Linked DNA regions of Homo sapiens. The protein of the gene in region 4 interacts with the protein of the main gene of each other region in a pairwise test. Each region holds a gene or a part of one and is shown on either strand. Other genes may lie near its edges.

Region 1 (3,065 bases), on a different chromosome or scaffold from region 4:
CGAGGCACAGCCCCGCCAAGAGGCCACAACTGTCAGCTGCTTCCGCGGGAAGGGTGAGGGCTACCGGGGCACAGCCAATACCACCACTGCGGGCGTACCTTGCCAGCGTTGGGACGCGCAAATCCCGCATCAGCACCGATTTACGCCAGAAAAATACGCGTGCAAGTGAGGTGGGGGGGGGGGGCGGGCGTTGGGACGTGCTGCTGCGGGTGAGACGGGAGGAAGGTAGTCACGGGCTCAAGGCTGGAGGCTGGCGGGCTAGGGCTGAGTGGAGCGCCTGCTTAGAGACCTTCGGGAGAACTTCTGCCGGAACCCCGACGGCTCAGAGGCGCCCTGGTGCTTCACACTGCGGCCCGGCATGCGCGCGGCCTTTTGCTACCAGATCCGGCGTTGTACAGACGACGTGCGGCCCCAGGGTGAGGCCCAAGCTTGGGGGCTACAGAGCCGGGCTGGAAGCCTGGAACCGGAGGGCCGGGGCGAGGTCTCGGCCTGATGGCTGCCCGCACCCGCCACAGACTGCTACCACGGCGCAGGGGAGCAGTACCGCGGCACGGTCAGCAAGACCCGCAAGGGTGTCCAGTGCCAGCGCTGGTCCGCTGAGACGCCGCACAAGCCGCAGTGAGTCCCTGGTGCTCCCGGCCCCGCCAGGGCCCTAACCCTGGGGCGGCATGCTTTGGTGTCTGGGACCAGAGCCTGGAAATGGTTGAGACTACCCTGCCACGATTTTGCTCCCGCTTCCGCCTAGGTTCACGTTTACCTCCGAACCGCATGCACAACTGGAGGAGAACTTCTGCCGGAACCCAGATGGGGATAGCCATGGGCCCTGGTGCTACACGATGGACCCAAGGACCCCATTCGACTACTGTGCCCTGCGACGCTGCGGTGAGCACTAGTGACGCTTCCCCCATGACCCTGCCTCAGCCCCCACCCAAAGGCTGGCTCCCTTAACCCCAGTGAACTTTGTCTTTCAGCTGATGACCAGCCGCCATCAATCCTGGACCCCCCAGGTTAGGAGTTGGGCCAGTTATGGGTCAGGCCCTTTAGCCCACGACATCCACACAGTCTGGGTTTCATCCAGCCCACCCCATCCTACAGACCAGGTGCAGTTTGAGAAGTGTGGCAAGAGGGTGGATCGGCTGGATCAGCGGCGTTCCAAGCTGCGCGTGGTTGGGGGCCATCCGGGCAACTCACCCTGGACAGTCAGCTTGCGGAATCGGTGAGGCACAACTGCCTGTCTCCCACAGAGAGGAGCTGAGGTTGTGTCCTCTGTGGTTATCCCACTGGGGGCTGGGAATCTATCCCTGCCCCCAGAGGTCCTAGCCAGAAGATGGCAGGTCTAGCATCTGTCCCAGGAGTCTGTTACCTGTCCTAATTCCCCACTCCTCTAGGCAGGGCCAGCATTTCTGCGGGGGGTCTCTAGTGAAGGAGCAGTGGATACTGACTGCCCGGCAGTGCTTCTCCTCCTGGTGAGCCTCCCTTGTGTTTGGGGACCCAGTCTCATCCCACCTTCCCCCTTCCCCAGGCAAGCTAACAAGTGAGCCTTGGGGCAATGGACTGAGAGTCACAAATGACCTAGCAGAGCTTCTCTCCCAGCCATATGCCTCTCACGGGCTATGAGGTATGGTTGGGCACCCTGTTCCAGAACCCACAGCATGGAGAGCCAAGCCTACAGCGGGTCCCAGTAGCCAAGATGGTGTGTGGGCCCTCAGGCTCCCAGCTTGTCCTGCTCAAGCTGGAGAGGTATGTGGACAACCTGGGAGGGTGTGAGGTGGGGCTGGGCCTTGTGGCCTCAGACCCTGAGTGCCCCCATTCTTGCTAAAGATCTGTGACCCTGAACCAGCGTGTGGCCCTGATCTGCCTGCCCCCTGAATGGTATGTGGTGCCTCCAGGGACCAAGTGTGAGATTGCAGGCTGGGGTGAGACCAAAGGTAAGAGCACAGTGCACAGGACTGCTGGTGGCCAGGAGGCCCAGCCCTGGATCTTCCTGCAGGACCCTCTCCCTCTCCCCATTCCCCTCACTGCAGGTACGGGTAATGACACAGTCCTAAATGTGGCCTTGCTGAATGTCATCTCCAACCAGGAGTGTAACATCAAGCACCGAGGACGTGTGCGGGAGAGTGAGATGTGCACTGAGGGACTGTTGGCCCCTGTGGGGGCCTGTGAGGTTGGTGGCAGGGCCCTGGGCCAGCCCTGGAAGGGTATGGGGGGCTAGAAATGAACTATTTTATCATGAAGCAGGCTAGTCATTGCTGTGGCCCGGGGCCCTCATCAGTTCTCCTACCTGCCAGGGTGACTACGGGGGCCCACTTGCCTGCTTTACCCACAACTGCTGGGTCCTGGAAGGAATTATAATCCCCAACCGAGTATGCGCAAGGTCCCGCTGGCCAGCTGTCTTCACGCGTGTCTCTGTGTTTGTGGACTGGATTCACAAGGTCATGAGACTGGGTTAGGCCCAGCCTTGATGCCATATGCCTTGGGGAGGACAAAACTTCTTGTCAGACATAAAGCCATGTTTCCTCTTTATGCCTGTACAGATGCTTCTTAGCCTTTGCTTCCAGGAAATGTGTCAGTGACTCCTTGCTAGGGCTCGGGTGGCTTGAGCCCAGCACACCCTGGGCTAGGTGATCTGTCCAGCCTAGGGGCTTCCCCAACCAAGGCAATGTCCCTGGGACTACTTTTGCCCATGGGTGCCGTGGAAAGACAGGGCCTCACACTAGTCCTCCAGACATACTCTTGGGAAGGGTGGTACAGAGTAGTTGCTAATGGAAGGGGCTGCAGCAGGGAAGCTAGGCTGGTACAGAGTCCTGGTTGCCAGGACAGGCAGAGGCTAAGCCTCTCACTGTTCCCTCCCTTCTCACACTGGAGGCAGATGAAGCCCTTGTGGCTGCCACACCCAGAACCTAGGGTCTCTGCACCCCAGAGTGGGAGGTGGGGTTGGGGATGGTTTGGTACAAAGTACCAGCAGGAACCAGGCTCTGTGTCCTAATTTATTATGACTACATAGCCCACATTCCTCTGCCCACGCATCCGTGGAGTCCAGAGCCCAGAAAGCCTCCTGCTGCCCT
Region 2 (7,908 bases), on a different chromosome or scaffold from region 4:
GCTGTGTTGCCCAGGCTGGAGTGCAGTGGTGCGATCTCGGCTCACTGCAAGCTCCGCCTCCCGGGTTCACGCCATTCTCCTGCCTCAGCTCCCGAGTAGGTGGGACTACAGGCGCACGCTGCCACGCCCGGCTAATTTTTTGTATTTTTAGTAGAGACGGGGTTTCACCATGTTAGCCAGGGTGGTCTCGATCTCCTGACCTCGTGATCCACCCGCCTCGGCCTCCCAAAGTGCTGGGATTACAGGCATGAGCCACTGTGCCCGGCCTCTGCCTTCTCTTTTTTTTTTTTTTTTTTTTTTTTTTTTGAGACAGGGTATCATTCTGTTGCCCAGGTTGCAGTACAGTGGTGCAATCACGCCTCACTGCACTGGATCTCCTGGGCTCAAGCAATCTTCCCACCTTAGCCTCCCAAGGCACATACCACCATGCCCAGCTAATTTTTTATTTTTTGTAGAGATGGGGGTCTCACTATGTTGTCCAGGCTGTTGTCGAACTCCTGGACTCAAGCAATCCGCCTGCCTCAGCCTCCAGTGTTGGGATTACAGGCGTGAGCCACCACACCCAGCCAAATATACTTTCTACATCTTTAGTGCTTCTAAGAAGTAAGATAGATTTGGAGGTATGTGCTGATCCTGAGGACAAGTGGAAAATATTTACATGTAGTTTAAAGTTACATGTAGTTTAAAGCTATAAAAACAATACCTTCTGAACTAGGACTCTAGTCACCTTGGAATTTCTATTCCAAAAGTGGAGTTAAGCTGAGAATTTCCTAAAATTTTACTAAGGGCCTAGGACACCCTTCACTGTGGATTCCCTTTTTCCTGCACTTCTGTGGAAATCTAGCTTTATTTTGTGCACACTTTTTTCCTTAACCTTAATCTGGTAGAGAAAAGTCGGAAGACGCCTCTTTTCTTGGCTTTCTATTGGACCCACCTCTTTTACCCTATATCAAAGGCCTATTTGGCCACAAGTATCAGAATCTTATAACCTGACACATTATGACCAATCTGGTCCCTGAGAGGCAGTATGGCATAGCATAAACAACAAGGGCTTTGCATTCAGATAGACTGGGGGCTTTACTTCTTTGAGAATCATTTTCCTGTTTTAAAGGGAGTATACTTGACATAGTTGTTTTAGGAATTAGGTGAAATAGTGAAGGCATAGCACCGGGTGTTCAGTAGTAGTCTAGGGTGGAGGGGCAACAGCCCAAGTTTTAAGAATAGATGTTTCAAGCCAGGCATGGTGGCTCACGCCTGTAAACGCAGCACTTTGGGAGGCCAAGGCAGGTGGATCACCTGAGGTCAGGAGTTCAAGACCAGCCTGGCCAACATTGTGAAACCCCATCTCTACTAAAAATACAAAAAAATAGCCAGGTGTGGTGGCGGGCACCTGTAATCCCAGCTACTCGGGAGGCTGAGGCAGGAGAATCGATTGAATCTGGGAGTCGGAGGTTGCAGTGAGCCAAGATCGTGCCATTGCACTCCAGCCTGAGCAACAAGAGTGAAACTCCATCTCAAAAAACAAAAAACAGGCCGGGCACAGTGGCTCACGCCTGTAATCTCAGCACTTTGGGAGGCCAAGGTGGTCGGATCACGAGGTCAGGAGTTCGAGACCAGCCTGACATGGTGAAACCCTGTCTCTACTAAAAATACAAAAATTAGCCGAGCGTGGTGGCGCGCACCTGTAATCCCAGCTACTCAGGAGGCTGAGGCAGAAGAATCACTTGAACCCGGGAGGCAGAGGTTGCAGTGAGCCAAGATAGCGCCACTGCACTCCAGCCTCGGCGACAGAGCAAGACTCTGACTCAAAAAAAATTAGCTGGGTGTGGTGGCGTACACCTGTAATCCCAGCTACTGGGGAAGCTGAGGCAGGAGGATCACTTGAACCCAGGAGGCGGAGGTTGCAGTGAGCCAAGATCATGCCACTGCACTCCAGCCGGGCAACAGAGCAAGACTTCACCTCAAAAAAAAAAAAAAAAAAAAAAAAAAGAATAGATGTTTCCTAGGCTGACTAATGGATTAAAATTCCCCAATACTGAGGCATATGCTAGTCACAAGTCCGAAGTTGTAGAAGAACCAGTAACTCATGAATTGGCCTTAGCTTGCTCTTGCACTTGCTTACTTGCTTGCTTGCTTCTTACAGAGGGCGGATGGAATAACTCAACATTCCTTCCTTCCTCCACTGCAACACAAGTTACATAGGTGATGATGTGGTAGTTGATTGATCGGCATCCCCTCAGCACCCAGCTCACTGCATTGCACACAGTAAGCAGTTAGTAAATGAGAGCATCAAATCAATACCGTGATTGGTACATACTTGATTCAATAATTATTGGGCACCTACCATTTTGTTGCCTGCAATACACCTTTCCCCTTTTGGTGCAGAGGCATGAGAAGAATTCTGCCTGTTGCCACCCTTTCTGAATGCCATTTAAAAATTCTTAACTACCTTCTCCAAACCACACACACACAAGTTATCTTCCTCTCCCACACTCTTGTCTCTTTCTCTTTGTATTTCAGGGTGTCTACCAGAAGATGGACCCAAGATCCATGGAGGCTCCTGTGACTCAGATCAACTGCCCTGCCCGGGAAACCTGGTCTCTCCGGAAACCTTGATTAAACTGCTTTTTCTGACACCTCTTCCTCTACAACCCTTGATTCTATCACCATTGAAACTTCAGAACCAACTCTAACCATCCCCACCTCCAGGTGAGGGGACTAATGAGAATTACTGACAGCCTGATGGCTACCCCCAAGTCAGTTTCCCTTCATACTTTACTACAAATCTGACCATGTTCCCATATTTACTGAGTAAATTTGATGAAATTTACCTAGTCCTGTGTCCTAGATGTATCAGGGAGAGGGAAGAGAAAGGATAAAGGAAGTTGAGAGCTGGGATAGGAATTAGAGGCAAAGGGCTTATGTAGGGAGCAGAGAGCTAAAATTCTAGTCAGGCACCTCTTTCTGAGGTGATGGGGGAGTATACTGGGAGCAAACTCTTCTAGAGAAAGCATGGTGTGGTAAAAGAAAACCAAGCTTGGATTCAGAAATCACCATCAGCACTTGCTGTTTGACCTTAAATTCCTCATCTGTCAGATTAAAAGGTCTCGGCCGGGCATGGTGGCTCACGCCTGTAATCCCAGCACTTTGGGAGGCTGAGGCAGGCGGATCACCTGATGCTGGGAGTTCGGGACCAGCCTGACCAACATGGAGAAACCCTGTCTCTACTAAAAATACAAAATTAGCTGGGCCTGGGGTGGCACATGCCTGTAATCCCAGCTACTCGGGAGGCTGAGGCAGGAGAAGCGCTTGAACCTGGGGAGGCGGAGGTTGCGGTAAGCCGAGATCACGCCACTGCACTCCAGCCTGGGCAACAAGAGTGAAACTCCATCTCAAAAAAAAAAAAAAAAGATTAAAAGGTCTATAAAGTCCCTATTAAGCACCATGAGTATAAAGGGACTCAAACTGACCTCTGCAGATTCTTGATTCCAGCTTTTTTGTTTTTGTTTTGTTTTGAGATGAAGTCTCGCTCTTGTCCCCCAGGCTGGAGTGCATGGCGTGATCTCGGCTCACTGCAACCTCCACCTCCCGGGTTCAAGCGATTCTCCTGTCTCAGCCTCCCAAGTAGCTGGGATTACAGGCGCCCACCACCATGCCCAGCTAATTTTTGTATTTTTAGTAGAGACGGGGTTTCACCATGTTGGCCAGGCTGGTCTAGAACTCCTGACCTCAGGTGATCCACCCGCCTCGGCCTCCCAAGTAGCTGGGATTACAGGCGCCCACCACCACGCCCAGCTAATTTTTGTATTTTTAGTAGAGACGGGGTTTCACCATGTTGGCCAGGCTGGTCTAGAACTCCTGACCTCAGGTGATCCACCTGCCTCGGCCTCCCAAAGTGCTGGGATTACAGCGTGAGCCACTGCGCGCGGCCATCTTTGCTCCAGCTTTAAAGTGGTTACTCCAGAGGCTGAGGTGGTCAGTTGAGCCCAGGAGGTCGAGACTGCAGTGAGCCATGATTGTACCCCTGCACTCCAGCCTGGGCAACGGTGAGACCTTGTCTCAAAATTAAAAAATAAAACTGTTACAGTCATTTATCATAATAGCTTCTTGTTGCTTTTGCCCATTACCAAAAAACCATGGGCCACACTAGACGATTTACATAAAATTTAACTCAACAATTGGGAGCAACACTATTCTCATTTTATAGTTGAGAAAATTGAGGCTTAGAGAAATTAAATAGGTCAGGCAAGGCGGCTCATGCCTGTAATTCCAGAACTCTGGGAGGCCGGAGCGCGGTGGCGGTTTGGTGGGGGGGAGGGGAGGGATTGCTTGAGGCCAGGAGTTCGAGACTACCCTGGCCAACATAGTGAGACCCGCCCCCCCCTCCCGCCCCCCCCGGTCTCTATTAAATAAATATGAGAAGTTTAATAATTTTCCCAAAATTACATAGTTAATGGCAGATCCAGAATTTACACTAGGTCTGTCTGGTTCCCCAGTCTATGCTCTTAAGTTTTGCTACTTGCTGTAAGGACCACGTAAAATAAAATGTATAGTTAAAGGGAAATTACTACCATTTCCTGTCTGGTTTTCTCCCACTCTCGCCCTCAAAAGTTCACCTGCCCTTGTCCTCAAAGCCACAGGACGCCTAATTGCTATTTTTGGGTTTCAGCTGAAACGCCACGGGTCTGGGGGAATAGCGAGGGTGTGTTACATTTTCGGTCTTCCGGTCAGCCGGAACCACTCACACCGCTGCTGGTGCTGTGTAGGGTGTACCTCTTCGGAGTTCCTGGAGGTGGTGCCAGACTAGAGTGGCAGCTGTAGTAACCAATAGACACGGACTTTGTTGGACCAGAAGCCAATGAAGAATTACGTGGAGGAGAAGCGGCGATAATCTGTTTGAGGATGTAGGCACTGGTGTGAAGGAACATGGCCCTGTATCAGAGGTGGCGGTGTCTCCGGCTCCAAGGTTTACAGGCTTGCAGGCTACACACGGTGCGTGAGGCACCCCCAAAGCTCCGATCCGCATCAGACTTAGCCCAGCCGAAGCCCCCAAATTTTTATGTTAACCCAGCCTCACGCCACTCCTCCTCTCCCTGGTCCTCCGAGTCCCCAGAAAAGGACTCGTATCTAAACTCGTTATCTAATTCTCGAGTTAGCGGTCTGGGGGACTCTGAGCTCGAAGGACCCCCAGCCTAGGGTCTTGTATCACCCAATCCCCTTAAAAAGTAGGAATTCGGACGAAGTCCACTTAACCATCCCAAAGTGCCATCATCTGCAATTCTAAGAAAGAATGATGGGACGTGTGTTACCTGCTAATATATCTTTCCCTCCAGGCAGTTGTGTCGACCCCTCCACGCTGGTTGGCAGAGCGGCTTGGCCTTTTTGAGGAGCTGTGGGCTGCTCAGGTAAAGAGATTAGCAAGCATGGCACAGAAGGAACCCCGGACTATTAAGATATCACTTCCTGGAGGCCAGAAAATTGATGCTGTGGCATGGAACACAACCCCCTACCAACTAGCCCGGCAGATCAGGTAACAGGCCCATCCTGTAACTACCAGGATTATCCTTCTGCCCCTTTACTTTCTCTTCACTTGAGCAGGGGAAGAAAACTTGGTCTGCTTGTTTCTGTTCCGTCCCCATTAAGATAGCCTTTCCTGAAGATTTTGTTTTTGTTTTTTGTTGTTGTTCTTTTATACAGACGGGGTCTCTCCATGTTGCCCAGGCTAGTCTTGAACTCCTGGGCTCAAGCGATCCTTCCATCTCAGCCTCCCGAAGTGCTGGGATTACAGGCATGAGCCACCAAACCCGGCCTGAGATTTGTTTTATCTGTATTAGTTTCTGCATCAGAGTCTCTGTCCTTTCATTGGGGAAAGAAATGAAAGCTTCTGTTGCTCTGGTAACTCATTTCACCTTTGCAAGTTTACAGTTGCTGAGAGATGAGCAACTTTCTCCCCACTGTGGATTGTAACCCTGTCTGTTTTAAATCATTAATTTACTTTTTAATAATTGATACATAATAATTGAACATATGAATGGGTATATGTGATATTTTGATATATGCATACAATATGTAATGATCAAATCAGGGTGTTCAGGATATCTGTTACCCCAAACATTTATCATTTCTTTGTGTTGGGACTATTTCAAATCTTCTAGCTATTTTGAAATATACAATAAATTATTATTAACTGTATTCACCCAACTCTGCTATGGAACATTAGAGCATATTCCTTCTGTCTAACTCTATTTTTGTACCCATTAGCCAACCTCTTCATCTCCCCTCCCCCATCCTTTCCAGCCTCTGGTAACTATCACTCTATTCTCTACCACTGTGAGATCAACTTTTTAAACTCTCATATAGGAATCAGAACATGTGATATTTTCCTTTTTGTGCCTTGTAACCCTGTCTTTTTCTTCATCCCCACCTTCCACTGCTGAAGTTCAACACTGGCAGATACTGCAGTGGCTGCTCAAGTGAATGGAGAACCTTATGATCTGGAGCGGCCCTTGGAGACAGATTCTGACCTCAGATTTCTGACATTCGATTCCCCAGAGGGGAAAGCAGTAAGTTTCTTTCTTATCAGGAATACAGTGACTACTAAACCAAGAGATATTGAAGCAGGAAATTCTAACATTTTATTCTTTTGCCGCAGTTTCTCCATTTGCAGTTGGGAGGGAGACCTACCACAGACTGTCTTGACTATTTCTGGTTAGGAAACTTATGGTGAAAGTTTTTAACTTAGCTTCGATCTATTAAGCAAACATTTGTGCTAGTGAGAGGGAGAGAGATGATATGTTGAAAAAACGAAAGGATAAATATGTAAATTCAGCCCCCTCAACTCTTGAGCACGTACATTATAAGTCATCTGTAGTGTATATTCAATTCTAACATGGCTTATACAGCTGAGCAAACAACCTGGTCACCTCCCCACCTTGTCTTCTTCATGTCAGCTCAGGTAGCACAGACCTTGCCTATTAGGATCCAGAAAAATAGAGTTCTCCTGCCATCTATGTGTAAATAGTGACCAAATCCAAGAGGAATATATCGCACTAGATTCGTGGGACAGAAAAAAATAGGACTAAAAGACCAAACAGAGACCTAAGTAACCACTGTGTTAAGAAGATAGCTTATTCTGGCCAGGCACAGTAGCTCACGCCTGTAATCCCAGCACTTTGGGAGGCCGAGGCAGGTGGATCATCTGAGGTCAAGAGTTCAAGACCAGCCTGGCCAACATAGTAGAAACCCCGTCTCTACTAAAAATACAAAAATTAGCTGGGCGTGGTGGTGAGCACTTGTCATCCCAGCTAATTGAGAGGCTGAGGCAGGAGAATTGCTTGAACCCTGGAGGCGGAGGTTGCAGTGAGCTGAGATCGCGTCATTGCACTCTAGCCTGGGCGACAGAGCGAGACTCCGTCTCAAAAAGAAAAATTATTCTGAAGCCCTAAAAGCTTACAGGAGCAGCAGAAGACTGACTGGCCTCCAGCTTCTATGCTTTGGAACTGGGAAGAACCAAGGATTGAGGGGTGGGGCTGGAGCTTCTATGCACTGAAAGAAGAAAAAATACTGGCCTTCTTTCTTTTCTATTCAGTCTTTTTTTTTTTTTTTTTTTTTTGAGATGGAGTCTCACTCTGTCACCCAGGCTGGAGTGCAGTGGCGCGATCTTGGTTCACTGCAACTTCCACCTCCCGGGTTCAAGTGATTCTCCTGCCTCAGCCTCCTGAGTAGCTGGGATTACAGACACACGCCACCATGCCTGGCTAGTTTTGTATGTTTTAGCAGAGACAGGGTTTCACCATGTTGGCCAGACTGGCCTCGAACTCCTGACCTCAGATGATCCGCCTGCCTTGACCTCCTGAAGTGTTGGGGTTACAGGCATGAGCTGCTGTGCCCAGCCTTTTTTTTTAAGCT
Region 3 (7,037 bases), on a different chromosome or scaffold from region 4:
AAGAGGATTGCCTCAGCCCAGGAATTCCAGGCTGAAGTGAGCTAATGATAGTACCACTGCACTCCATCCTGGGCAAGAGAGTGAGACCTCATCTCTCAGGGGGTCAGGGGAGAGAGGAGAGGAGAGGAGGAGAGGGGACGGGCGGGGGAAAGGAGAGAGGGAGGGAGGGAGGGAGGGAGGAGGCAGGAAGACAGGCAGGCAAGCAACTGACAACCAGTCATGATAAACACTCCTGGAAACTAGAAAAAGGGAATTTCTAAACCTGATAAAGAATAAATATAAAAAACCTCCAGCTAACAGCATACTTAATGAATGCATTAAATACTAAATATATGCATATGTAAAACTAAATACTGAATTCAGTACTAATTAAATACTGAATTAAACAGTACATTCATAATAAATGAATGCATACTTAAAACTGAATACACTGGCCGGGCGCGGTGGCTCACGCCTGTATTCCTAGCACTCTGGTAGGCCAAGGTGGGTGGATCACAAGGTCAGGAGATCGAGACCATCCTGGCTAACATGGTGAAACCCCGTCTCTACTAAAAATAAAAAAAATAAAAAAATTAGCCGGGCATGGTGGCAGGTGCCTGTAGTCACAACTACTAGAGAGGCTGAGGCAGAATGGTGTGAACCCGGGAGGCGGAGCTTGCAGTGAGCCGAGATCTCGCCACTGCACTCCAGAGCCTGGGTGACAGAGCGAGACTCCATCTCAAAAAAAAACACTGAATACATCCCCCCTAAAATCAGGAACAAGGCAAGGATGTCTTCTCTCACTACTGCTATTCTACATAATATTTGAAGGTCTAACCAAGGCAACAAGGCAAGGTAAGGAAACAGAAGGCATAAAGGTTACAAAGAAAACAGATTCCTATTTGTAGATGACATGATTGCCTATGTAGTATATCCCAAAGAATCTACAGAAAAAGGAAATAGAGTAAGTGAGCTTAGAAAGTTTACAGGCGCCGACCAGGCACCATGGCTCATGCCTGTAATCCCAGCACTTTGAAGGCCAAGGCAGGTGGATCACCTGTGGTCAGGAGTTTGAAACTAGCCTGGCCATCATGGTGAAACCCCATCTCTACTAAAAATACAAAAAATTAGTGTGGTGGCACGTGCCTGTAATCCCGGCTACTCAGGAGGCTGAGGCAGGAGAATCGCTTGAACCCAGGAGGCGGAGGGTGCAGTCAGCCAAGATCGCGCCACTGCACTCCAGCCTGGGCAATAAGAGAGACACTCTGTCTCAAAAAAAAAAGAGAAAGTTTACAAGCTGCAAGATCAACCTACAAAAATCAATTCTATTTCTCTATACTGGCAGTAAACAAAGGAAACTAAAACTAAAAATGTAATACCATATGCAATCACTAAAAAAACTGAAACACTTATAAATCTAACAAAACATGTATGGGATTTTTATACTGAAAACCTCAAAATGCTGATGAAAAAAATCAAAGAGGATCTAAATACACATGCAGTCCATGTTTATAACTGGAAGATTCAACATTCAATAAAGATGTCATTACTCTCCAAATAAATATGACACAGGTTTAAGGCAATTCCTGCAAAAGCCTTGCAAGATTTCATTGTAGATATAAACAAATTTATTCTAATGTATATGGAAAGCTAATGGAACCAGAATAGCTAAAACATTTCCAAAAAGGAACAAAGAGGGTGTTGATCAGTCCACCCAGTTCCAAGACTTTTTATAATAGCTGCAATAATTAAGACTGTGTGGGATCAAAGGAAGGTAACAATACAGAACAATGGAGCAGACCACAGACCTCAGAAAGAGATACACTCAACAGAGCCCTGAAAAAGACATCTATCTTATAAAAAATTAATTCAAAATTAATACAGAATAATTATAAAACCTCACTATAAAACTTTCAGAAAATAATGTAGGAGAAAATCTTAGGAAACTTGGGCTAGGTTTGTCATGTTAAGTTTTAACCTGACAGCAAAAGCACAACCGAGAAAAGGAAAAGCCAATAAATCAGCTCATGCCTGTAATCCTAGCTCTTTGGGAAGCTGAGGCAGGAGAACCGCTTGAACCCGGGAGGTGGAGGTTGTGGTGAGCCGAGATCGTGCCACTGCACTCCAGTATAGGCAACAAAAGCGAAACTCCATCTCAAAAGGGCCGGGTGCAGTGGCTGACACCTGTAATCCCAGCACTTTGGGAGGCCGAGGTGGGCGGATCATGAGGTCAGGAGATTGAGACCATCCTGGCTAACACAGTGAAACCCCGTCTCTACTAAAAATACAAAAAATTAGCCGGGCGTGGTGGCGGGCGCCTGTAGTCCCAGCTACTCGGGAGGCTGAGGCAGGAGAATGCCGAGAACCCAGGAGGCGGAGCTTTTAGTGAGCCGAGATCGAGCCACTGCACTCCAGCCTGGGCGATAGAGCAAGACTCCATCCCAAAAAAAAAAAAAAAACCACTCAGCAATAAAAAGGATTATTGACAAAGAGCAACTTGGACAGATCTCAAGGGCAAATACTGAGTGAAAAACGTTAAACTCCCAAGACCACGTGCTATATGATTTCATTTATATGACATTGTTGAAATGATAAAACTATAGAGCTGGAGAACAGTTCAGTGATTGACAGGGTTTAGGGAAGCAGAGGGATGGCATGACTATTAAAGGGTGTCACAGCAGGAAGATTTTGTGAAGAATTCTTTATCTTGATTGAGGTGGTAGCTACACAATCTACACGTATGAGAAAATGACACAGGATTACTCTTAAATACCACACCAATTCCAAATTCCTGGGTTTAATTTGATCGAATATTAACAAATGGGGAAAACACATAAAAAGCACATGAGACTCTCAAAGCTATCTTTGCAACTTCTTGTGAATCTATAATTATTTCAAAATTCAATTTTTTTAAAAGCTGCGTGTTCCACACAACAGACTTACATACGTTCCACTAGCTCAGTCAGCACCCCAACAAGAGGACATCCCAATGTATTTGACATGATTTTTTAAGGTTATTTTCCCTAAAATATAGCATTTTTTTCTGACTATAAGGAGAATTCAAATAATTCATTCCATATAAACTACAGATCATCAAAATCTCATTACCCAAGGCAACTATCATTAACATGATGCATTTTTAGATCTATCTTAAAAACGTGTTACACATTAATACAGCACATTATAATGTGCTGAACTATATAAAATAGTTGCTTCATTTCATGAAAACAAACGTTGATAAGAAATCATCTGTTTTAAGAAGAAAAGGTTTAGAGTACATTTCTAATTTCATTTAAAAAAACAAAACAAAGCAGGACAGCAGCAGAGACCCCAAACTTCCCTCACCTGGAGGCTCAGGGTTCTCCCTACCTCAGGGGCCGGTGCAGCATAGGCCGTGTATGGTGGAGGTGAGGAAACCACGGATGTCTCATCGGTCATGACTGCAGAGCCCACATACGCCTGCGGGAGACAGGAGAGGGTGAGGACAGGACAGCTTCCCAGCAGCTGTGTGCTCGATGCTGTGCATTGTCCCTTTTATTTAGCAAATTAAAAATTTAAAAAAACAAAAAGATACATAGCTCTCTGCAAAACAGGAAAAACTCCCCCAGTCCAGTGGGGGCCCCCACCCCTATTCTGGTATCCTCTAAATGCAAGAGCAAAGTGGTCCTCACTCGGCCCCTAACAGGACTACAGCTCTCACAGCCAGGAAGGCACTCAGAGGCCCCACTGTTACCCAATGCCTTTTAAAAGATGTTACATCAGGCCAGGTGCAATGGCTCACACCTATAATCCCAACACTTTGGGGAGGCTGGGTGAGAGGATCACTAGAGCCCAGGAGTTCCAAGGCCAGCCTAGGCAACAGAGGGAGAGCTCATCTCTACAAAAAACAAGAAATTAACTGGGCATGGTGCTTATGGCCCCAGCTACTCAGAAGGCTAAGTCTCAAGGATCACTCGAGCCCAGGAGCTCGAGACTGCAGTGAGCCAAGATCAAGTCACTGCACTCCAGCCCAGGCAACAAGGCGAGACTGTCTCCAAAAAAATAAAGATGTTACAGCACTCTCAACAGTCCTTTATTCACAAATAAAAACTCTACAATCTAAAATGTATCAAGAGATATGTCCTATACATAAGTCTGTTTTTTACCTTAAAAAACAAAATTCTTCATTAAATTACTCCCCAGTATAATTTAAAGAAAAACATGTTAGCTCTTTAAAAAAAAAGAAAAAGTGGCCAGGCGCAATGGCTCATGCCTTTAATCACAGCATTTTGGGAGGCCAAGGCAGGCAGATCACTAGGTCAGGAGTTGAGACCAGCCTGACCAACATGATGAAACCCCATCTCTACTAAAAATACAAAAATTAGCTGGGCGTGGTGGCACGTGCCTGTAATCCCAGCTATTCAGGATTCTGAGGCAGGAGAACTGCTTGAACCCAGGAGGCAGAGGTTGCAGTGAGCCGAGATCGCTCCACTGCACTCTGGCCTGGGCGACAGAGTGAGACTGTCTCAAAAAAAAAAAATCCACACAAAGAATCATTTGGGGAGCTTGCCCTTAACTGTATGGATTGTTAATGCTAATTTTACCCAAAAAAAAAAAAAAAAAGGGGGATTTTCATGAAGAAAAGGTAACTGCGGCTGTAGAGTAAGCTTAGAATGAAGTTGTTGTGTGCTAACAAAGGAAGAGAACACTGACGCTATTAGGATATTAAGCCTTTTACTTTCTTCTCCCACATGCACACATTCTTCTGTAAGCTTGATCCACCTTCTTCTTTTCTTACAGATTAATAAAGGAGAGAAAAATCCCATCTAAAGAATGAAAACTCTGACCAGAGTAACACACTCCCTTGATCACTGACAGATAAAGACAGCATTACGAGGCTCTACAAATGAGGTTCACTGTCTCAGTGACCTCCTAAGGCCAGAAACAGGACGAGAGACAAGTACAAGTCACAAAAATGTTTGTTTCACAGGCTGAGCTCCCATGCGTGAAAAGGATCCTGCAGTTCTTTCTAAGCCTTTACTGCAAACCACAGCACAATTCAAAGTGTTGCAGAACTTTGAGAAATACAAGCATTTCTAGAAAGCAACACTGGAACAAGCATGCCTGTAAGAGCAGGGTGCCTCCTGCCAAACATTTGACAAACCCAGCTTGCTCACTGTTGGCAAAAGGCGCCCTGCCCAGCACTACCTGCCCATTCGTGGCCAGATGGTCAAGAAACCCGTTTTCCCCATTCTCCAATTGTTACACAAGACCATGTGAAAACATTACTGGTGGCCGGGTGTGGTGGCTCATGCCTGTAATCCCAGCACTTTGGGAGGCGAAAGTGGGAGGATCACTTGAGCCCAGAAGTTGGATACCAGCATGGGTAATATAGTGAGACTTCGTCTCTACAAAAAAATTTTTTCAAATAAGCTGGGCGTGGTAGCATGGGCCTATAGTCCCAGCTACTGGGAAGGGGAGGCTGAGGTGGGAGGACTACTTGAGCCCGAGAGGTAGAGGCTGCAGTGAGGTGAGACAGCACCACTGCACTCAAGCCTGAGTGAGAGTGACACCTTGTCAAAAAAAAAAAAAATTATTGGTGATTGCCATTAGCAACTTACTGTGTTTGTCCTAGAATCTTGGAGTGTAAATTTCCAGGCCCTGGAGAAAAGAAAAAGGGTACTTTATTTAAGGCAATCCAACATTGCAATGATTCTGAAACCTGGGCTGGCATCAGAATTCCTGAAAAGATCTGTTTAAAAAACAAGTCTTCAGGCTTTGCCCCAAACCACTTGAGACATGCACTAGGAATATATATTTTTAAAAATTACATACATAATAGATATGTAATATTTAAAACATAATCTATACTATACTTTTTACTTTACTTTTTAATAAATGTGAAATGTACTGCCACTTGCTTTGTCAGTTCATGGCATACACACAGATCTACTTCCTTTTTACCAGCTATATAATATTCCACGATATGAGTAAAAAATTTAGATTAGCAATTTTTCAACATTAAAAAGAATGCTGGGGACCGGATGTAGTGCCTCATACCTGTAATCCCAGCACTATGGGAGGCCAAGGCAGGGGGATCACTTGAGCCCAGGAGTTCAAGACCAGCCTGGGCAACATAGTGAAATCCTAGCTCTACAAAAAATATAAACATTAGCCGGGCATGGTGGCGCATGCCTGCAGTCCAAGCTACTTGGGAGGCTGAGGTGGGAGAATAGCTTGCGCCTGGGAGGTCGAGGCTGTAGTGAGCCAAGATCACACCACTGCACTCTAGCCTGGATGAGAGAGAGGGGCTCTATCTCAAGAAAAAAAAAAGAAGAAAAGAATGCTATTAACATCCCTATTACCCTTACACTCTTATGTAAACATCTCCACAGGGCAAATTCCAAAGACTGAAAATACCACATCAAAGGATAAAAACATAATTTATTTCAGCAGGTATTGCCAAAATGCCCTGCAAAACGATTCTAACAATCTCTATACCTACCAACTTTACACTATATTGTCAAAAAAAACTAGATATCTGAACCTTAAGTATCACAAGAGCTTTCTTAATTCATAGGCAAAAAGCAGTCTCTCACGCCTGTAATCCCAGCACTTCGGGAGGTCAAGGTAGGTGATCACCTGAGGTCAGGAGTTCGAGACCAGCCTGGCCAACATGGTAAAACCAAGCTTCTACTAAAAACACAAAATTAGCTGGGCGTGGTGGCACATGCCTGTAATTTCAGCTACTCCAGAGGCTGAGGCAGGAGAAGTGCTTGAACCCGGGAGGCAGAGGTTGCAATGAGCGGAGATTATACCATTGCACTCTAGCCTGGGCAACAAGAGCGAAACTCCATCTCAAAAAACAAAATAGTGTTCTCTTGTGCACTCCCTCACTCCTTTACCCCTTACTTTTCTTACTGACCCTATCCCTCTTATCTTCATCAATTCCTTTTATGTTTTATTCTCATTTTACTATCTCCCTGAGTTGAAAGATTCATTCACTTATTTTCAAGTGTTCTGGCTTTCTTTTTTTTTTTTTTTTTTTTTTTTTTTTGAGATGGAGTCTCACTCTGTTG
Region 4 (6,355 bases):
ACTGTGCATAAAATGCTGCTCCCATTACCCTGTTGTATGCTCTTTATTAACTCTCCCTACCCTGGACAGACATAGAGCCGCCTTCCCTCCTGCTGGCACCACATCATGCTGGCACCCGCCTATCTGCCTCTCCCTGGCAACTGAGGAGACCAGGACAGCCAGTGGGAGACTTGCAGGGAGGAGGAGGGCGCTGGCTAGTTCTCCGCCCTCTCTGCTTCTCCTCCAGCCTGGGGTGAAGGTAGCTTCCTGCTGCCACTACTGTCCAGTGGCCTGACTTCTCCTGACACCCTCACAGTCAATGCCGCCTCACCTCCTCCCCCTGCACTTCCTGGAATGGGCTCTGCTGTCAGTCCCATTATCTCTCACAATTTGTATTTAACAGTATTATTTAGGGGAGAGACTGTATCTTCCTCATTTTTCTACAGAGAGACTGTATAGTGCCTAAACTAAATATTATTGAATTGAGTCACTTAAAATATTATAAATTTGATTCAGAAAATGTTATTTTTCCAAGGATGGGTTTATTTCAAAATTGTAAAGATTTATATATTATTTTTATTACATATAATAAGCAATTTTTAGCTTAAAATAAGTTTCACATTTAAAGTAAAAAAAATCTTAAAAATGCAGACATTTTTTAAAAGCAAAAAAGTTTAATTATCTTGCAGCACAGGTCTACCTTTAAATATTCACATTTCAAAGCTGCTTTGAAAAGATTTAAAAATTGGCTAAAAATAATTTACAACTGGCAGTGATTAAAAATCTTATCTTTGGAAAAGTATATTAATGACACATAATGAATTTAAAGTTACAAGCATTTAATGGTTTAATCAAGCATGTAGTTTTTACCAGTATACAAAATGAGACTTAGTACAAAACGGTCTTCAACTGTCACGTCAGTTGTTCCTGGAGTGTTTTATGGGGAAAAGCAAACTTCACCAAACATAGAGTACCAACATTCAAGTGCTCTTTTCCACAAGTTTCTGATTTTCAACTTAGGAGAGAAGAACAGCATTTAATAACTGCATCCCTGGTGGAAAAGAGAGGGAAAAAAACAGAATATAATATTCCTCAAAAGCAAAGTTGCGCAAAATGTTCCTGCTAAATCACCTTTTTTAACAGAACTCAATGGATGCTCCAACACACTTTTTGATTAATAAAAACTTTGTTCAGTATCATTTAAGATTAAGAGCTAAGATTTGAAAACATTTTGCTGATTTTTGACATGGTATTTATCTTAAGAAATTTTTACTGGCATATACACTGATCTCAATCAAAGAAATAAGTTTAAATACCAAAAATAACCTAACAAAAGATCTAACTTTTTTCTTTTTTTTTCCTTTTGAGACAGGTTCTCACTCTGTCTTCCAGGATAAGTGCAGTGGCGTGAGCAGATCCTCCCACCTCAGCCTCCCAAGGAGCTGGGACTATAGGGCACACCACTACACTAATTTTTTTTTTTTTTTTTTTAATAGAGATAGGGTCTTGCTATGATGCCCAAGCTGGTCTCAAACTCCTGCGCTCAAGCCATCCACCCGTCTCAGCCTCCCAAAATGCTGGGATTACAGGGATGAGCCACCAAGCCCAGCCCAAAGATTTAATTTTTAAAAAGAACTAGGCCAGGCAAGGTGGCTCACGCCTGTAAGGCAGGTGGATCACTTGAGGTCAGGAGTTCAAGACCAGCCTGGCCAACATGGTGAAACCCCATCTCTACTAAAAAACACAAAAATTAGCTGGGCGTGGCAGCGGCAGCACGTGCCTGTAATCCCAGCTACTCAGGAGGCTGAGCCAGGAGAAACTCTTGAACTTGGGAGGTGGAGGTTGCAGTGAGCAGAGATCACGCCATTGTACTCCAGCCTGGGTGACAAAATGAGACTCCATCTCAAAAAAAAAAAAGAACTAATGAACTGAGTTTCAAAACTGTAATGTTTATAACTGAATCCTCAGAATTAAAAGAAGATTGAAGTGTGACCTTTCATATTTTCTTCCAAAACTGTTATTACTTGATACTTCATTCATTAAAAAAGCTTTTACCTAGGCCATAAAAAATATCCACTAATAAAATTCTTATAGGCAAAATCTGTACATTGCTTATTGCTCTCGAGTGTGGGATCCTGTGTCTGGAGAGGCTGGTCATGTTCTTGAAGTCCTGCCATCTCTTCAGAGCCTCTTGTATGGGACATCACGTCTAGAGGTCCTTTCCTCCGCACCAAGAAGTATTGGAGGTCTCCTTGCTCTAAAGTTCCTATGCATGGTAAATTACCCTTGCACACTCCTGTTAAGCAGCTTTCTCACCTGTAGCTAACTTTGTTTTGCTTTTTCTCCTTGTAAGTATCTATCAGAAAGAATCATACATTTGAAATGGAATAAAAATAAAATTTCTACCAATTTCCTTCACTGTTCGTATTAAAGACAATTTTGCTGTTTTTAAATATATAACATATCTTTGAATTTCACAAACAGGCAAAGCTGTGCCTCACCAGAATCTTTTTCTAAATCTATCAGATTTAAAATTGGAACTAGTTTTGTTTTCTCCTCCACGGCTAAATACATTTCTCTGGAAAAATATTTTAAAATGCCGGTTACCTCTTGACATACAATTAAAATGTTTTTGCTGACCAAAAATAAGCATTTATGTGTAAGCCCTCATTTTCCCAGTAACTTCCTTTTTTATTGAGATGGAGTCTGGCTCTGTCACCAAGGCTGGAGTGCAGTGGCACGATCTTGGCTCACTGCAACCTCTGCCTCCTGGGTTCAAGTGATTCTCCCACCTCAGCCTCCCAAGTAGCTGGGATTACAGGCGCCCACACCACACCCAGCTAATTTTGTATTTTTTAGTAGAAACGAGGTTTTGCCATGTTGGCCAGGCTGGTCTTGAACTCCTGACCTCAAGTGATCTGCCCACCTTGGCCTCCCAAAGTGCTAGGATTACAGGTGTGAGCCACCGCACCCAGCCGTAACTTCCTTTTCTTAAGTAGAATTTGTTTTCCTGGAGTCTCTGTGTCCTATTTTCTGAACTCCTAAAGCCATGGAAGGGTCCAGAATCTCATCCACATTCCCTAGTGCACGCCAGGCAGCAGGGCGGGAGGATACTCCCCACAGAGCTGCTCCATGTCGCCAAAATGTTTCCATACAGACATTATCATGGCAAGCTGCTATTCATCTCATTGAAAACATGTTTACTGCCGGGCGCGGTGGCTCACGGTTGTAATCCCAGCACTTTGGGAGGCTGAGGCGGTAGGATCACAAAGTCAGGAGATTGAGACCATCCTGGCCAACATGGTGAAATCCCGTCTCTACTAAAATACACAAAAAAATTAGCCGGGCATGGCAGTACGCGCCTGTAGTCCCAGCTACTTAGGAGGCTGAGGCAGGGGAATCTTGAACCCAGGAGGCAGAGATTACAGTGAGCCGAGATGGTGCCACTGCACTCCAGCCTGGCGACACAGTGAGACTCTGTCTCAAAAAAAAAAAAAAAAAAAAAAGTATGTTTATTTCCTTTTAGGAAATTAAAATCAACCAAAAAAAAAGGGTTTAAATAGTATTTTTATGTAAAAATTACTTAAATTCATATATTTGTGTGAAGATAAGTAAAGAACCAGAAAGAAGACAAGATTCAAACAAGCTTACCTTGCATATGGGATGTACGACAGGCTATACCTGCAAGAAATATTCAAGCATGTTGAATCTTCATCTGAATGATGGTTTTCCTTTATGCCAAAAGGCCATGTCTAACCTTATAATAAATACAGCAGCATGAGACTGTACAGTGGTTCTCAAAGTGTGACCCCGACCAGCAGTGAGAGCATCATCTGGGAACTTGTTAAAAATGTAAATTATTAGGTCCTACCTTAAACCTCCTAAATCACAAGCTTGCTTTAACAAGCAACCTGCACTTTAAACAAACTCTCTAGGTGATTCTGGTGCATGCTAAAGTTTGAGCTTCTTATAATAAAATAGAAACTGTACCACAACTGATAATTATAGTCTCCTTTAGGGATAAATCAATTATTAGTTACAAATTAGGCAATAAAAGGCAAAATACTAGAGAAAATAACCAAGAGATTAAGTTTCTTCACATATCAGTGAAAAAAAGTAAAGAACATTTTATGGTGAATTTGAGATATACAGAGAATTACATTTAACATTCACTGATGTTTCATCTGTCAGTAGAAAGAAGGCCGAAAGAAAGGTGATCCCAAACTGGGTAATGTCGAGTAAGAGGAATGTAAAATGGCAAAACCAGGAAGCAAAAATTAGGAAGCAAGAGCTGCTCTAAAGGAAAAGGAAAAGTACTCTTCACTAACACAGAAGAGCGCAGGAGCTGCAGGGCACGTTTAATCAACCACCCAGATATTTATGGCCTTTATGCAGATGAACTCTTACTGTGCGAGACACAAAAAGGCTACAAGGAGGACAGTCTGAGCAGAAACCAGGACATGACTGAATCTTCACAAAAGTGGACTGGGAAAGGCAGTGCAGGTGAAGCACCTCTGATCTGAAATGATAGGAACTAGAAATGTGTTGGATACTGGATTTTTCTGGATTTTTGGAATATCTGCATTACATTTACTGGTTGAGTATCAACCAAATCTGAGCATCATGTCAGCGTTCAAGAAGTTTTGGATTTGGGGCTGGGCATGGTGCCTCACATTTGTAATCCCAGCTACTTGGAAGGCTGAGGCACGAGAATCACTTGAACCCGGGAGGCAGAGGTTGCAGTGAGCCAAGATAATGCCACTGCACTCCAGCCTGGGTGACAGAGTGAGACTCTGCCTCAAAAAAAAAAAAAAAAAGTTTTGGATCCTGAAGCATTTTGGATTTGGGATGCTCAACCAGTAACTTAAGAAGTATTTAATCACTGCCAATTCAGAAGACATCTCCAGATATCACAGGGCCACAGAGTCAACATCAGGATAAATTCCACGTTGTATTTATCCAGCAATAGAGTGGAGAATGCAGGTAAACTCATCTTCCCTTGGACTCACCCTGTGATTTGGTCTCACTTTTATGTACTCACATGGCATCACCTACTTTTCTTATTATTTCTCTTTCTCACATTAGAAAAAAGCAGAACATATCACTATGTAACTCTACGAGCACAGCACCCCATACTTCTCCCGAACAGTACCACTGAGCCACGCTGTCAAGTGCAACAGGACTCATCGCAGACCTCCCCTCCTCTGACCCTGCAGGGCCTGTCTGGCTCCAAAACACCAGACGAAATGCTAGGGCTTCACAGGTCCCAAACAAAATGCTCGTCACGTCTCAGGCAATTTTAACACTTCACTAGGGTAAGGAAAGACTTACCAGGTCATTGACAAGAACTGCAATATGCAGAATAACACAGCCAGTCCCTTCTTATGCCACTAACAACAGCAAAAACAGAGCAATTATGAGTTTCAAAGTTTTAAAAACATCTTTCTCAATCAAACTTAATTCTTGTCTTTCAAAAATGTAGATGATGGCTTCATTTATCTTTATTAAATTTTAGTGTGATAAATTTAAGATACAGTTGATCTGAAACTTTAAAACCCAAAAAATACATTTCCTTTCTAAAACTATATCCATTAATTTAAATACTGCAAAATATATGACTTTAAATAAACGTTACTGAAACAATTGTGCATAGACTGAAAACATTAGACTTTTAAAGGTGGTTAGGTCTTTAAAGTCAATGTTAACTTATCTAGAATCGACATGTAAAATCCCACTGAGATCTGTATGCCCCATGTGAAATTTACTTATTTTACTCATTCCCATTTGCTCCTTGAGTGATATTTTGAAGGAAAATTGTATTTTATTGTGATCTTCTGGAATAATATAAACAGTTTCCATGGTTGTTTTAAAATATTTTCAGAATTCCTTGTCCATCAGTGCTTTTTTACTTATTTATCTTCAATCTACTGTTTATAAGTAAACAGGCAATTCCAAAACCAAAAATCAAGGTTCTATAGAGAGGTGCAAGTTAAGAATATTCTTTTATCATTAAGAAATGACACGTAAATCAATCTCATATAACTAAAGTCCTGTCCTTACATCATCAAAATAAAAAAAAAACTGGAATATTTCTGATAGCATTCTAAAATATCTACCCTTTCTTCTTTAAAATGGGACTTTTCTTGTTGATAGTTCAAGAACTGCTTCAAACCCATTTGGGAAATAGGTTGAGTACAATAGAAAAATATGATGTAGAATCAGGAGATCAAGAAGTAAACGGAATTGTAACAATGTGACTTCTTTAAAGGCTAATGAACAGCTGTTAACCTTCTCCACAGGGTAGGAGAATGATTTCAGTTCCTCTCTTTGTTGTTACTATCTGTGTTTTCTGGCCCTCTCTATTGGTTTTACACCT

What was found.
Region 1: the proteins of SFT2D1 (region 4) and MST1 interact in binary tests that used the Homo sapiens proteins (3 or more experiments, as listed by UniProt).
Region 2: the proteins of SFT2D1 (region 4) and TARS2 interact in binary tests that used the Homo sapiens proteins (3 or more experiments, as listed by UniProt).
Region 3: the proteins of SFT2D1 (region 4) and PLEKHB2 interact in binary tests that used the Homo sapiens proteins (3 or more experiments, as listed by UniProt).

Annotation. Positions count from the first base shown.
Region 1 is NC_000003.12:49,683,413-49,686,477, reverse strand, and holds the end of MST1 (hepatocyte growth factor-like protein isoform 1 precursor), read left to right. Parts: coding exon 1-165; coding exon of another isoform or gene 166-170; intron 171-285; coding exon 286-416; intron 417-515; coding exon 516-618; intron 619-745; coding exon 746-882; intron 883-971; coding exon 972-1,007; intron 1,008-1,095; coding exon 1,096-1,216; coding exon of another isoform or gene 1,217-1,256; intron 1,257-1,388; coding exon 1,389-1,466; intron 1,467-1,522; exon of another isoform or gene 1,523-1,593; coding exon 1,594-1,740; intron 1,741-1,821; coding exon 1,822-1,928; intron 1,929-2,024; coding exon 2,025-2,164; intron 2,165-2,288; coding exon 2,289-2,450; 3' UTR 2,451-2,531; downstream 2,532-3,065.
Region 2 is NC_000001.11:150,482,525-150,490,432, forward strand, and holds the start of TARS2 (threonine--tRNA ligase, mitochondrial), read left to right. Parts: upstream 1-4,894; 5' UTR 4,895-4,926; coding exon 4,927-4,992; intron 4,993-5,333; coding exon 5,334-5,530; intron 5,531-6,439; coding exon 6,440-6,563; intron 6,564-7,908. UniProt on the Homo sapiens protein: Catalyzes the attachment of threonine to tRNA(Thr) in a two-step reaction: threonine is first activated by ATP to form Thr-AMP and then transferred to the acceptor end of tRNA(Thr). Also edits incorrectly charged tRNA(Thr) via its editing domain.
Region 3 is NC_000002.12:131,129,303-131,136,339, reverse strand, and holds part of PLEKHB2 (pleckstrin homology domain-containing family B member 2), read right to left. Parts: intron 5,620-7,037; coding exon 5,580-5,619; intron 3,439-5,579; coding exon 3,349-3,438; coding exon of another isoform or gene 3,325-3,348; intron 1-3,324. UniProt on the Homo sapiens protein: Involved in retrograde transport of recycling endosomes.
Region 4 is NC_000006.12:166,319,227-166,325,581, forward strand, and holds the end of SFT2D1 (vesicle transport protein SFT2A), read right to left. Parts: intron 5,370-6,355; coding exon 5,311-5,369; intron 3,661-5,310; coding exon 3,631-3,660; intron 1,031-3,630; coding exon 991-1,030; 3' UTR 502-990; downstream 1-501. UniProt on the Homo sapiens protein: May be involved in fusion of retrograde transport vesicles derived from an endocytic compartment with the Golgi complex.